Linked DNA regions of Homo sapiens: all the other regions are linked to region 2. Evidence: fine-mapped expression QTL. A gene starts in region 2. Each other region holds a variant in brackets. All regions are shown on one strand. Distances are from middle to middle. Region 1 holds the start of ARPC5 (actin related protein 2/3 complex subunit 5). Region 2 holds the start of RGL1 (ral guanine nucleotide dissociation stimulator like 1). Region 3 overlaps RGL1 (ral guanine nucleotide dissociation stimulator like 1).

What was found.
Region 1: its variant is fine-mapped to the expression of RGL1 in whole blood (TOPMed, PIP above 0.99).
Region 3: its variant is fine-mapped to the expression of RGL1 in T cells (TOPMed, PIP 0.94).

The regions. Positions count from the first base shown.
Region 1 is chr1:183,632,848-183,638,076 of GRCh38, reverse strand. ARPC5 (actin related protein 2/3 complex subunit 5) reads left to right here and starts at 2,294. Exons shown (of 4, transcript NM_005717.4): 1 at 2,294-2,560; 2 at 4,923-4,995. The coding sequence starts at 2,418. It also overlaps a transcript of RGL1 not described here. RefSeq lists silencers at 2,011-2,170, 2,651-2,700, 2,781-2,840, 2,792-3,010 and enhancers at 2,321-2,600, 2,598-3,098. The variant A/G (reference allele first, on the strand shown) is at 1,986.
Region 2 is chr1:183,803,052-183,808,280 of GRCh38, reverse strand. It overlaps RGL1 (ral guanine nucleotide dissociation stimulator like 1), which reads right to left and starts at 3,161. Exons shown (of 18, transcript NM_001297671.3): 1 at 2,957-3,161; 2 at 1,796-1,906. The coding sequence starts at 2,983. RefSeq lists enhancers at 689-738, 1,482-1,541.
Region 3 is chr1:183,885,236-183,890,464 of GRCh38, reverse strand. RGL1 (ral guanine nucleotide dissociation stimulator like 1) reads right to left here. Exons shown (of 18, transcript NM_001297671.3): 8 at 1,888-1,991. Among named protein-coding and RNA genes, the nearest start is that of RGL1, 83 kb to the right of the region's middle. The variant T/C (reference allele first, on the strand shown) is at 2,205.

The DNA.
Region 1 (5,229 bases), 170 kb after region 2:
TTAGCTCTTGAATCCCTGTTTCCATTTGCTGTCAATAGTGCCTCTAATGTTCGATTTTCTCTTCAAAGAAAAATCTTGATTTAAAAGAAGAAAAAGTACAATCACCTTTAACAGCTAAAGTATACTGATTAGCATCTACTAAAGTTAGCAAAGACTGAAACTGAAAAAAAATTGTAAAATCTTTATTCTAAGTTATATAACGCCATTCACCATAGTAATGATTTTATACTTTGGTATATGGCTTTTTAAAATAAATATTGCCAACAGGTAAAAATTTTTCCTTTGCTGTCTTAAGGCATTCCTAAGAGAATTTTTACCAGTGTGTGTTCATAACTTGAATGTTAATTTAAACAATGTTACTTCTATCACCTAAATGATATACTTATAGAAGAGTGGTTTAATTGGGAACAGAAAAACACCACATTGCTTCTTCCCAAGAAAAAGGGATGTATTCCATTCTCGAGGTCTCTCTCCCACTCTCTATTTATATATAATATACTGCATAGATAAATATACACACATTATATATGTATTTTTTTGAACTTAAAGAAGACTGGACATATGTATTTACATGTATATATCCAACAAATATTTAATTTTGAGATCTCTCTCCCTCTTCTGATTTATTATTCTCAGTATGATTCTCAAACTGTACGGTCTTTCACATTTCATTCATTCATCAAGCATGTATCGAGTCCCTTCTGCATGCTTAGCTTTTTGTCATATGGAAGGAAGATACAAAAGAAAAACTGTTTCTGCCCTTCAGAATCTTTCCATCTCTTCTAGGAAGGAGATAAAACACCATATATCATTAAGAAATTTATAAGACTAGTCCCAAAACCAATGGTACAAGCAACATGCATTTTACATTTATGTAGAATTTTAGAGCTTGGAAACACTTTCGTGATATATAATCCTAAGAACAATCTTGTAAAGTGCACATTATTAGCTCCATTTCAGTGATGAGGAATCTGAGACAGAATTTTAAGTGACATGTCTCGTTCAAACATTATGAGTGGAAGAGTCAACACTTAAGCCTGAGTTTTCTGATTCTAAGCCTAGTGCTCTTTTCAACACAGCACTGGAAACCAAAGATTGTGGTACACAACAGGGCAACAGCCAGTCTTCTGCTCGAGGTCCAACTAAACTGGACCCATACCGAGCAGTGTCCAGCCAAATGTCCAAATTAATTTTATCCTGCAAATATTTGTTCTTCAGTGTAATACACACAGCACAACTACCATTTCCTTCGTCTTAGTGCCTTTATCTCCTACATTCCAGAAATGGGGATGTCAAATATTTTTTTAAATCTGGCCTAGATGGAATCATATAAATCTCAAATCATAATATAAATCTTAAAGGTCTGGTTTCCACCAATCCTTCCACATTTTGTTTTCCCCCAGCACTAGAGAGCCTAACCTACCCTCACCCCTTTCGAGCATTCTTGCTCCAAACGACCACCTATTTTAAGATGTCAATGACCCTTTCCCAAATTCTACAAATTCACCCCAGTTTTGCCACCCGACCCCAGCGCCTGCCCGGACACGTTCCCCTCCCTCCCAATAGATTTGATACCGAGTTCAGGTTCTGCAGATCCCGTTGCGATGCTGTCACACAGCACTGACAGATAAGATTTGACCTTTCGACTCCGTCCTTGGGGACTTCCCGCTGGCCAAGAAGGGTAGTTCCAATCCCAGGAAACGGGCTTCCTGCTCAGGAACGCAGCCTCTAGCAGCGCACAGTCTGAGGCAATGTCTCCGGCAATTAGAACGATGCTGGGCGCCCGGGTGTGCATCACTCTGCCTCATACTCCTACCAACTGCAGGGCACTCGGTCCGGCAGCCAGTCCATCCCACCCACAGCCAAGTCCCAGCCAGCCGGACCTTACGCAGGACCCCGATGATAGGTCGTTGACGGCTGCAGCAAAAGCCAAGGCCACCTGCCGCTGCTGCCCATCCCCGCCAATCTGAGACCCCCTAGACTGG[A/G]CCGCAGAAAAGCGTTTCTATGGGAACCCCCCCACCGAGAATCACGTGACGCAATCGGACGACCAATCGCTTCTTACCTCTGCCCGCGGTCCAGCTTTTGGCCCTCCCTCTCGCCCCCGCCTCCTTCGCCCAGCCCCGCCCCTTGCCTGCGGAGAGCCCGCGCCTGCGCGCTGTGTCCTGCGCGCTCCTTCCCTCGCGCGCGCTCTCCGTGGAAGAGCAGGGGCAGCGTGGGAGGCGCCAAGGGAGCGCGAACCTGAGGAGGAAGAAACGGGGCTAGCGCGCAGGCCCAGAACGGTCCGAGCCGCGGCAGTCGGCGACGCCTCAGAGCGGAAGAGGGAAGTGAATCAGGCGCCGGGTAGTGGGTTGCTGGGCTGGGCTTGCTGAGGTAGAGGCAGCGCCAAGAAGAGGCCTTTGCCGCTGGTCGGGATTGGGATGTCGAAGAACACAGTGTCGTCGGCCCGCTTCCGGAAGGTGGACGTGGATGAATATGACGAGAACAAGTTCGTGGACGAAGAAGATGGGGGCGACGGCCAGGCCGGGCCCGACGAGGGCGAGGTGGACTCCTGCCTGCGGCAATATCCTTGCATTCACCGCCCTCCCCACCCCAGCCCAGCCCAGCCCGCCCTTCTCCTGGGACCCGGGAGCCTGCAGGATCCGCGGGGCACCGGCGCGGAGCTGCCCTCTCAACCTGCGGCTTAACCTGTCTCTTTGGGATCGCCCGCTCTGAGAGGGCAAGGGGGAAGCCCCCGTTTCCTACCCAGTCGGCAGGAGACGCGAGGGTCCCACTCTTGGAAGCCTGCCCTCCCCCGCGCGCCTTCCACGCCCCCAGATTCCTCAGGTTGCACCCGAGTGCCTGCCTGCCTCGGGAACTGGTCCCGCCGGCCGCGCCCTCGCGGCGCTGGGGAAGGCGGCCCCGGCTGGTGGGGAAGGCTGGTGCCGAGCGCCTTAGTTTTTCTTCCTAGAACTCTGATTTCCTGGGGTCACATTAGCTCCAGAAATTTCTGATTGTGGGGAACCTGCATCTTTCCTTAGTGGTTTTGTTTTTTGTTGTGTTTTTGTTATTGGTAGCGTTAAGGTAGTTTATTCCTTACCGGGGGGCGGGGGGAGATGGGACTGTTCGAAAATTGAGGGTCCCTGTGCTTTCAGCCCATTGGCCTTTTTAAAAAAAAAAAAAAAAGAAGAAGAAGAAGGGGATTTGGCAAAATATACATTGTACAGAATTTGTTAACTGGGGGAGGGGAATGAATACAAAAAATACAAAACTCCTAGAAGGAAGCTTGGAGCCTTTTACCTGCTAAGAAAAGGACAATAGAAAAAACAACGGGGAATGCGTGTGGAGAATCCTTGGAAATATTTAAAATAAACCCCAATGAATAAGATAGAAGATGAGTCATTCGTATAAAGCAGAATCATTTTTGTAATCCTAAAATTGTTTCCATTTTAGTTAAAATATGGCAGTCAGTTCCCGGTTTCTGTTTTTGCATATTTGAATATTCATAACTTTGGCTTCGCATTTGCATTACATCTTTTTTAGAAAAATGTAAATGTTGCAAAAAAACCGAAGCTGTAGTTTTAGAAAATCTCAGACACTGAATTTGTATGCATTTCTAATTCTTGGGTGTATTCATAAGGAAGACTCTCAACAATGTCCTGTTATAGTGGGGAAATATGAGAGTGAAAATATTTAATGGCAACAATATCCTTTTTTAAAGGCACCTAAATAGAGCATTAGACATTTATCAATATATAGATAGTGCTTTGCCACAACTTTCACAATTAATTAGCTGTTGCTCTTTTGCATTATTTAAATACTTAAGTGCTTGGAGTTATAAAAAATGAGCTAATCTACATCAGGCATGCTTCTCTAGAAATCCCTGCAGCCTTGAAAATAACAGCTTGTCAACCAGAGATTTTGTGTAAGAACTTTTTCTTTAGAAAATAAATGGTGAACATGCTTCCTAAAAACATTATTTGTGATGGATAGATGGTGTTTTATGAAACCCCAGTGTATTTTAGGTAATTTGTGGTGACTTTTAAATGGTACTGCTGTATCCATATCAGTGGATCTGCTTTTTGATCAGTTCATCTTAAAATATAAAGATACTGTCTCTTCTTACCGTTACATACAGCCAGGAAAGACAGCCCTAGTGGTGGGGTACTAGAGTTGGAGGAACAAGTGAACTCTGTGGTTTTCCTTTTAGGGGAATGTTTGTACATTCTGACAGTCTGATTGGCCTTCTGTTTCTCATGCTTGCTAACTCACTAGTGCTTTCAAAGAGAGCCTGAATTTAATAGGTATGGTCTAACACAGTTTGAATAACCTTTGTGAAATATGAGAGAAAATATCTAAAGCAAAAAATTAAGCTGCCACCTAAGGGACATATGAATTATTACATCTTCTGTGATGCCTCTTTTCATCAATATTGAGAGATTGCTAATGTGTATCATTCAGATTGCTAATCTGCCAGCATGTTCTACCAGCATTTCAGATAATACAGAATATGGTTCTAGCAAAAGTTTGGTCTTTATTTTTTCAATTAGAATCACAGGAAAAGACATATTTTGGTTGATAATAGGTTATTTCATTTGGGGGACTAATAATTCTGATATATATTTTAGGATTTCTTTAACACCACTCTAGGTAATGTTTGCATATGTATCTCACTGGGAAATGAAAGACTATCAAGGTGTTCACTTGATAGTTAGAACCAAGGGTGAAACAGTCTTTGCTTTATTAAAAAAAAGTCTAATGTTCTATTTTGCTTTTGATATTTTGCCTTTGATTAACATCCTGGAAACCAACACATTGAATTTCCAGTATTGAACATAGTGACCAAAGTAATTTTCTTTTTATATGTAAATCAAGTCATAAGAACCAGTGGTTATAATGCTTTCCTGGGGGCCATCCTTTGCTGTTACACCCTTAACTTCCATCACAGGAAACATGACAGCTGCCCTACAGGCAGCTCTGAAGAACCCCCCTATCAACACCAAGAGTCAGGCAGTGAAGGTGAGTCGCAGACTACAACACAGTGATCTCTGCTGATATCTTATTCTTAGTAAAATCCTCTGCAGTTGCAAAAAAAAATCAATATTTTAACTGTTTGCTATCTTTGACATAGAAGAGTTTATAATGTAGTTTGATAGGTAAAAATTTCACGTGAAAAAATAGCCCTATAATGTAGTTATGATAATGCTGCATGGTAAGATACAGTAAGTTCAAACGATAGTGAAATCATTTGTG
Region 2 (5,229 bases):
TATAAATTTGAGAACACTGAGAGAAGGGAGAGAGAAGAAAAGAAGTGAAGTCTAGTGAAGAGAACAGTCAGTGGGGATTACTAAATAACTCTGAGCATCTAAATACATGACAGTTTGTAGATGTGGGGCCTACAGAGTGAACCCCTCCATTTCCAATGACTTACTCATAACTAATGTTGTATATGGCTGAAAACTAAAACAGTCACCCAAGCAAAGTCAGTCTCATTAGAAAGAGAGGAATAACCTGATACCAAAAAAATGTAATGACCCTTTTGAAGACAACTGGTTCAGAAGTTGTGAATCATTCTGAAATAGCTAGAGGCCAAACCACATGGACGCCACATTTAAATAAAATACATACACACAACCACCAAAAACAAAGTGATGACTTGTCAGAACTCTAGTTCTGCTTTCCCTATCAGGTCTGCTAGTGATATACATAATTAATTTTAAAATCATATTCTGAGTAAGGTAGGTACTTGGTAAGTGAAGACCTCTAGTTCTCACTGGAAAGCTCCTATCTTTCCAGACCACACCTGCAGATGTCATTAACAATTTCTGGCCCTCATGGGTGATACCTTGGCCCAAAGTACAGTAGCAGGAAAGGCCTGAGCTGAAGCAGCTGGGGAAGCCCAAAGCAATGAATGCCTGTGTCAGCAGACTCATGGCAGAGGAAGTGATTGCTGCCGGCCATGGGCCACCATCCTGCCTTAAACTCCCTGGAGTTACAAGTCACACGTTACCACTACTCTTAACAGGAGGCCCTGTGCAATTTTGTGTCCTATCCTCCTTCACACTCCACCTTTGAATGCTGCTCAAAATATTCTGAATTTTCAGAGACTCCAAGCCGCTAAAGATGGGATGCAAGTGCATAAATCTTCAACACTCTGAAGCCCATCGGCTAAAATAAGGCCAGCCAGGTGAAATCACACTCCACCCCCTCTATTCAGCCAACCATTATTTTCTTTCTCAAGGCTTTTTGGGTCGCCTCTCACCGCCTGGTCTGAGAACTACTTCTCCTTCCAGATCAAGAATCCCTTCATTCTTCCACATGTTTGACATTTGCCCAAGTAGTGATCCTGTCGCTGAGCTTTCCATTTCTCATATTCGCTTTATTTGGGATGTGTTGAAGGATCTACTAGGTGATACCTACAAACTTGCATGACCTCACCCAATATTTTACAATCTCAGTGGAAAAGAGTCCTGTTTACAGAAGCAGCATTTTTCCAAAGGCCCACCACTCTACACACAAAGTAGTGGGTACTAAGCATCCATTTGCCTCCTCCCAAGATATAGAAAAGAGATCACAATAGGAAATCTACCACCCCTCAAAGGATGCAGACTTGGAATGCTCTGTCTCCTGAGCAATCTGGGTACCTCCTAGAGATATAGGAGCAAGGCAGACGCTGACAGCATCAATTGGGGGAGGGCAGAGAGAGACAAGGGTGGCTTCTGGGCAAAGCTGCTTATGGCTCTTGTCTAAGAGAGTGCTGCTCTCTGGGCCTGTATTCTGTGTGTCATTTTCTGCCACTCCACCCCCAATCTATTTGCCAAAGACCTCAAGATGTTTCTAAGAGGTTCTGAATTATTGACAAACCTAGGGAAGATGCTTTTGAAAACATTAAATACAAAAAGAGACCTGTTCAGCTAGTGCAAACACTTGGTCATTAGCATTTTCCTTTTTAAAGCGAAAAGAGGAAAAAAAAAAAAGCCTGCCTCTGTTAAATAATAATGATATTCACAGAACGACAGACACTGAAATTCCAAAGTTCACCATCTCGCCAGCTTTACTCACCCCTAGCCATCTTGCTCCTTTATTGGCAGCCTGTTGAATCTGGACTCTTTTGAGGGTGACATGGTAAACAGCTCCTTCCTCTACCTCTTCACCCCAGTCCTGAATCGAGCTCTGCCAGGGACGGGATAAAGAGAAAGAAAAAGAGTATTTTTTTCCTCTCTGCTAACCACAATCTATCCCAGCTGCCTTGCTGCTTACAACAGCACTCAGGGCACAAGATGGGCTGTTCAAAATAAATATTACAATCCGCAATACAAGACACATTTTGATAGAGGGAATGCTGAGATTTTCTTGGCTTGCAGTCCCTTCCTGTGGTATCAGGATCCCCTGACTTTTCCATTTAGTTATTTCTCCTAGACTTGCTCACATATCTTAAATAGTTTTGTTTTGAAGTCTTTCTTTTTCTTTACAAAGAAACTAGATTAGTCCTGATTAACTTGTCCCCCTTAAGTGAAAGGAAAAATAATTCTTTGTAAAAAAAAAAAAAAAAAAAAAAAAAAAAAAAAAAAAAAAAGAAAAGAAAAGAAAAAGAAAAAGAAAAAAAGAAAAGAATAAGTCTGTACTTTTTAGAGTGGCTCGGTCATTGAAGAAACCAGATTTTAAACTCAGACACAAACAAGTGTTTAAAACGCCAAGAGTCCTCACTCCTTTGGAAGTGAAGTGGTTTGCTTGTCTTTTCTCCTCATTGTTTTGGAGCCCACAAAGTTAGCGGGGGTGGAAAGTTTTTATTTCCGTAAAATAATCTGGCAAGTGCAGAAAAAGCAACACATCATCAGGCAGCTTCTACTAAAATCTGTGCAGCGACCCCCTGGATTTCCATGTCCCCAGCTAAACCTGAGGTTTGTGTTAAAGAGCCGCTGGGACGCAGAAGCGCTCCGCGGTTCACCCACACTAACAGTTCTTTTTCCTTCAAAGTTCTCCCCTCCTGACATGCATCTGCCCCAGACACACCACAGGCAATTGCTGAGAAAGTAGGTACGGTTGAAAGGGAGAAGACACGCAGAGAGAGAGGAATACAAAGCGGAGTGAGAGAGCTTTAGCTCACAAGTATGGAATCGGATTGCTCCGTTCACTCCGAGGGAGTCCAAAACACGCCCAGCGAAAGCGGGAGAAGATTCCCCACCAGAGAAGCCTCGGGAGAAGGCAGAGAGCTCTCGTTACCATTTTAGCTTGCCAAAGCAATTTCATTCTCAGTTTTCTCTCCGGTGCGCGAACGCTGCATGATGCGCCCTGCTCGGAGGCCAACGCAATGTCTGCTGGGCTCAGCCCCGCGGCGCCTCGCCCCGGTCCCGGTCCCGAGCGACCGCAGCGCACAGACACGCGCCGCGCTGCCCCCGCCGCCGCCGGTGCGCGCGACTCGGGCCACAAAGGGAGCGCGGCGAGCGAGCGAGCAAGCGAGGAGCAGACTCCTCCCCACGCCACTCCGTGATGTAAGGCTTTCCTGTTTGTGCTTGTGAGCACACTCTCCCTTTCTTCAGTCCCATGGATAAAGTCAGCATGAAAGCGTTTCTCCAGTTCTGAAGGTGATTGGGAAACAACACTTTCAAGTTTATCAGGTTTTCCTGACGGTCACCAGGTGCCAAAATAGAACTGAGTGTGGGATGGAGGATTTGTGTGTGTCTTCTTCCTTCGCTAAAACAATGGAAGGAGAAAGTCCAAAAAACTTCCATTATCTGCCTATTATCTATTTTGATTTTAGAATAATTAAGTCAGAATGACCCCAGTGAGAGCCGCAATACTAGACGCCAGGAAGTTTTTCATTAGGACAGAGGATAAGGTCAGAGGACACCCGGGTATTCCAAAACCATGCCCAGGGGCTATACCCTCTCCTGCATCAGCACACTGCCAACAGGAAATCGCGCTGGGCTTTTCACCACCCCAATTACCCAGTAACTGGCCATTGGGGGTGGGAAGGGAACAAAGCAGGGTAAGGTTTTGCTAGGACTGACAGTGTCCTGGAGGTTCTGTGAGTCTTTGTGAGTAGCCACCATGGGTTGAGTTGCCTGTACTGTAGGGACACAGTAGGATCATAGCCACAGGGAAAAGTTCTTCATCAGATGACTACCAGCAGGAGTTTTATCATAATGGAAAGATCTGCTATAGGGATAAAAGATTATTACATTTTTTTAGATCCAGTTTTAACAAGTCAACAGCAAGAGATACCAGATAATGCAGTCAAACTTGACACCTGCCAGAATTCCATGCAAATTGCAAATACCTTTAGGGCTCATGTCTTTCATACTATTCACCCTAAATGAATTTAATCACCTTCAAATAAAAAAAAAAATAGGTCTCCCACTAATTGCCATACTATGACATAAGCCTGGGTTTTGGTTAATGGTAAATATATCATGAGCTGACAATTTAGCAAATCAAGTGTACTGATGTTCCCAGGAGAGCAGAATAAATGACAGCAAGGGCACATTAAGCAAAAACAAAAGGATCTGTGGACACTTGAGAACATCTACAAGTCATTCAGCCAGGTTATCCCCATACAACCAGAACCTAAGGGCACCATCACTGTATAGAGAGGAGATGCCCTTTTAGCAAGCTGAAGTGGTTGTTCTATAATTTAAAAAACAAACGAACGAAAAACACATAGACTAAATCCTTCTATGATGATCAGGGCAGAATGTTGCTGGGAACCAGAGGAAAATCATGTGAAGGCCCTACCTCCCTGCTTGTTAAGCCATCCTCAGGAACCCAGGCCCACCTCTAGAGGACCTATTAGGTGATCTTGGACACCACGAAATGCAACTGAGGACAGTTAAACAACCTGTAAGATTAACTTCACCACTACTTTAACCTGATTTTTGGCTACACATTTGGCAGTAACTGAAATATTTCCATTTCAGGGATATTAAGCAGTTTCTTCAACCTCACTCTCCCAGGAAACCTTCCTGGACAGGGCGGCTTAAATTCACAAGGCCCCACTCAGGTTTCAGAGCTACTCACCTTTCTCTGTACTCCAATTCCCTGGCTGGCCACCTAGTGTGTAAAGGGAAAAGAACTAGCTTCAAGCCAAGTGGATACAGCTTCACATCCAGCCTTGCAGTGAGTGAACCTGAATGCTACTACCCTGAGCCTTAATTTCCTCATCTGCAAAATGGGACAACCATCTACCTGAAAGAGTTTGAAAGAGATCAAATGAAATAATGCATGCAAATCATCAAGCACATGGTAAGTGATCCAAAAAAATTCCACTGCCTCCTTATTGTACTTCCTCCCAAACCATATTTATCCAGACTCAGTGAAAAGCGTGTTATGTATGCAACACTAGGAAATCTGAAATGATGTCTTCTCATGGAATTACTTTAAAATTTCAGAGAGGTTTTCCAAGAATAACTATTTGTATTTACACCTCACAATGTATGTAATTTTGTACAAATGCTGTTCTGCAAAAAAAGAGGCAGACTTTATGCTAGATAGAGCAA
Region 3 (5,229 bases), 82 kb before region 2:
CTAAGAAACAAACCAGAAACATATGTTACACAGAATGCAGCTTAGAGGGTTTTTCCTTTGTCTTTAGAAAATAGTTTTAAAAGCCAGCTAGAATAAATCTTTTCATATGGCAGCCAAGGAGACTAAGATACAAGTCCATTAATTTTTTTTGCTCATGTTTTAGTCTCAAACTTGCTGTGGAAGAAATCTTAGGCTGGTTACGTGACTTTCCTTAGTGTTCTTTTTTCAACCATCAAAGAAAGGATTACCTTTCGTGGCAATCAGACAAGGTTGCAATCAATTGAGTAAGGCTACATTTTAACACTTGACTGTCCCTTTGTTTTTGATACTATACTACAGTTGAGTGGAGAGTGGTGGTAAGGGAAAGAAGAGGTGAAGTGGAGGTGTGAAGGGTGGGGACACTGCATGCTTCTGATTTTCCCATCGCATTTCACCAGGGCCTATCAAGTAATGATTTTATATGACCCCATCGTTCTTAAGGAGAAATGTGCAGAGGAAAATCAACCAACTAATCTCTCTTTAATACACACAATCACCTTGATTATTCAAAATAGAGAAGAAAGAACCTAAAAAAAGAATAATAATCAAGAAAATTGCATTGGTCTTTGAAAAGCCTGCTAGTTCTTCTACTGATAAATATTGATGTCATAAACAAAGCACGAGCTTTGGAGTGCAAGTAGCTGTGGCTTCTACAGCTCTGTAACATGAGGCATTATAAACATCCACTTTATTTTTTTCTTTTTACCCATCAAAGAATCACCTAATAAATAATTTGGCTTACACCAAGTAGACTATCCCCTGAACGAGAATATGAGCTTATCAGCAAGCTTGAGGATTCTGGCACTCATTTTTCAGCATAAATTTATGAAACTCTGGTTTACCAGCTTGGGGCTCTTGCAAATTCAAACAATGCCAGTCTCTTAGGGCTTGATCAACTCTGAGTAAACTTATGAAACTGAGGACCCAGACCTTCCATTCTGCCCCACTAAGGCAGCCTGGCTGGGAAGCCAGCTGGCATCCCTCTCCTCCTAACTGAAACTGACTATACCACATGTGGTATAGACCATACAGAATTTATAGATTCTTCCCTGATATAGCCTAACTTCCTGACTAGTTCAAACCTGGGCAAACTTGTTGAATGTAGCTGGCCTAGTTGTACTCATGACACAATCCCCAGCCTCTAAATCTGTAGTGACAGAGAATCAGAACTGCCCCCTCCCTCACCTTTCCTTCCTTTGCACAAAGTTCTTTGATCTACAGTGAAGTTCCGGAAATGGAAGTGATGGCAGTAGTGCAAAAATCAGGAAACCAAGTTGTTAATTATTCCAACGGTTGCACCAAGAAATATGAAGAAAAACAGCATAGGATGTGGCCAGTTAATAATTTCAGGTACTTAGGAAAGAACATTTAAAGGTTTTTAATGCCAATAAGATAGTTTTTAAAATGCTGAAACTAAAAGGACAACTAAATAGTTTCCTACTGAACATCAAGAACTAATGTCCTATCTGCACACATTACCCCTTGAGTCCTAAAATAGCTTAGGGCTTTGTAGTGAGGCTGAAAAATAACCAGAAGTAATGGCAAATTGCTGTAACTTCATCACTCCACAACCTTATCCCTCAAAATCCAGATAATAAGCACATCCTTCAAATCATCCCCAAAGCCAATAATCTTGGCTTTGGTATACTTAGAATGAGTTTGATTTCTGCAGGAGCCCTGCCTCAAAAGTCATTAATGATTATGTGTAAGATGCACCCTGCCTGAAACACACAGAGGATTTCAAATATGTTTCTCTAGTTATGCGATACAAGCTTTGAAGGTGAGGACTCATCACAACCACTAATTATCCCGGCCAAAGAAAAGCAGAGCAAACACTTGGGAACTTACCTTGGGACGGCAGCCCAAGTCTTTTTTAACCGATAGATGGAATTAGACTGCAGTGCCGAAACGATGGCCCTCAAGGAGGAAAAATTCTTCAGGAGTCTACATTCCTGCATGGGGAGTGATTAAAACATAAAAGGCATTTAACTATCAATATTACAATGACTTGGTGGTTTCCTGTTTTAGAGGTATCACAGCTGCTATGAATTCTTACCACAAAATAGGCAGCTGTATAAATAGTGAACATCAAAAAGTGGCTCCTTCCTCCCACCCCAGTCATCGAAACACTTTATAGATTTTGGCACAGTATGCTTGTTTTTCTC[T/C]CGTCAATATATTTTTTTGTGTTGTTGTTACAGTTTTATAGTTTCCAGCTTTCCTAGTAAAAACACTAATGGAGGTAAGTCTACAGAGCTATGCTAGAAAGAGCAACTTTCTTCTGCTGAAAGCACACAGATGTCCTAAAAATATGCACTTTAGATCTTCTTTAGATCCCAAAATGAGCTGGGCAGCAGCCACTTTGAGGTCAGATGGTATTGAACATCTCATCACCAACCCTTGTCCACAGAGGTGTATATAATTTGGCAATAAAAATTCACCACAAGTTGAACTTTGGCTTTTATGCTCTTAGCCAAGGGGGGATATTTTTATACACATTCATTTGGTTTCAAATTGGCTTGTCCTGCAACCATAAACATTCAAAAACACCTTGGTACTTCAATGCTTCCAAAATAACTCGGCCTTTTAAAATAAAATTCATTTTGGCAATGTTTTAAAACAAAATAGAAAGAGAACAGGAAACATTCTGGATGCCATTTTCTGGGTAAGGAGAGAGGCTCCCTATTTAAACTTAAGCTACCATAAGGAGCCTGTAGCATCAGCAGTTAGTGACCTTGGAGTCAAAGTCCTGTGACTGAATAGCAGGGACAGCAAAACAGACAGGGAGAAAGTCCCATTCTTGGCTGGCATGGGGAAGGTAGCAACGTGAGGAGACTGGACCAGGCCTTATGTCAAAGGAGATGCTTCATATACAGGCACATGACAGCGTACTAGGCCCAGTGTTTACAAGTGAGTACACCATGTGAGCACGTATTTGGTTTTGTGTAGAGTATCTCAGGTAAGAAGTCCCAGAGTGATTGGGCATAAATGTAAATCACTTCGAGAATCATTTCACAAAGAAATGTTAATCCTGAATACGAAGGAAAAACAGCACTCTAATTTAGCATGCCAAAATCTGGACACTGAAAACTATGCCAAACAAACCCTCAAACATTTTCTTTAGAGTAAATGCCAAAGTACTTAATAAAAGTCATGTCCACCCTTTTTAAATGCCTCAATGTCCTCCCCTTATTTGGAAAGATATAAAGAGAAAGAGAGAAGAAGGAGGGGAAGGAGGGAGGGAGGGAGGAAAAGAGGGAGGGAGGGAGGGGAAGAGAGAGAGAACAAGAGAAATGTTCTGAATTGCAATCTGGAAACTAAGCCTATGGGAGCATGGTTCAACAAAGGTTCACAAAAGTTATATTCTAAAAATCAGGAAACTTGCAATAAAAAAAGGAACTCAGGAACAGATACATCATGCAAATTGAAATAAACACATGGAACACATTATTCAAAAAGAGGTTTAAACTAAGGGTTTAAAGGAGTACAAAAGGCATCTGGTCCCATTTCTAGAAAAAGAGGCATCTTCCAGGAGATGTGATGCAAAAGTAAAAACATACCATTAAGGGCAGTCCAAGAAAATATAGTCATATTAGGTCAGAAAAATTTTCTTTTTCAAATATCCTTTCAATAGAAATTGACTACGATGAATGCAGGAAAGGTAAAATAAATCTTGGTAGCAAACCACTGGTAAGCCTCATTATTTTATTACATTTCCCTACACAATTGTAAAAGATACAACATACTCAGTATTAGGAAGTGATATCACCAAAAAAAAAGTAAGAGCCCTTGGCTTTATTAGCACATGATATGGGATTTGAAATATACTTCAAATGATTCAACTTGCATTTCTTATTACTACATAAATGCACAATTTACATTCAATTTGGACCAAAAGTCATCGCTTGAGCCCCACTATGTCACATACACAGATGCTATATTGTCACTATAGCCAAAGTAGTTGAATGAATTAGGGGTAGACAGTCTGCTTTTGAGACATGCTGTGACACTTATGGCAAAAAAAAAAATAATTCCTTATCATTCTAAAAAAACAGAGAACTTCTACACTATATCTCACTCACAACTTCTTTTGTATCTCTTACTTGCTGAGCAATAAGCTCGATTTAGAATAGGAGAAATAGAAGTTGTTTATGCAACTTACACTCTTTGTTTCTTGCTGACTTTCATAATACACTAAGAAGTCTGTAATAACAGACCACCTGAAGACTCAAGGCAAATTATCTGGCACAATTGTGTCTCTGCTCTTTAATCAAAGACAGCAAAAGAGAATGTAACATTATGCCCTATCAATAGGGGCTCAAGGAAAAATATATTTAAGGGGACATAAAGCAAAATGTGTTTTGGTTGAGAGTTTACCCATAGAGCCCAGAACACAAATTAATATGATATTTTCATATTAATAATTTTTCAAAATCATTATTTTGCTGATGTAATTTCTTTTGCCTAGAAAAAAAAAAACCTCTCTAATCTTCAAATACCAAAAATCCTATCTGTTACTCAAAGTTAATTTCAAATGTCAATTCATCCATGAAACCTTCCTTGATCATCCCATCAGAAATGATTTCTCTCTCCCCCACTTTTACAGTGCTTATCTCCCATGGCCCTACTCCTCTACTGTCTCAGGCTGAGATAATTCCAGTATATCTTAGCTTCCTTGTTTGTGTACGGGTTCCTGCAAACAAATAATTATGCTCTATCCTAGTATGTCCCCTAAGTACAGAATATTGTGGTTTACACACATTAGAAGTTCACAAAATATTTGGTGGCCCACTGACTGCACACTGTTGCCATTTTCTCAGTCATGAGATAAGATGCTGAGAAGGGGAGGTCCTATGGTATGTAAGCAGTTCATCCAAGAGACTAGACTCCAACACTCAGAAGAATGTGAGTCAGGCCTAGGAACAGACTCCTCCCCTCCAACTTCAGATTAATATGAGACATGACCTCAGATTAATATGAGATCTCTGTAAGTGTCTCAGTCCTTTAGAAAAGAGATTCAGGACTCTGAAGAAGTACCAGCTCTTCAAAACTGCAGAAGATGTAATGCCTCCAGGTACTGGGAGGGGGCATAGGTAATCACTCTGGGTTGAAGGGCAGTCTGTTTTGACATGCAGACCATACATTTATATTTACTGAACATGGTGCTGAAACCAACACTCAGTCTTGTCGTGA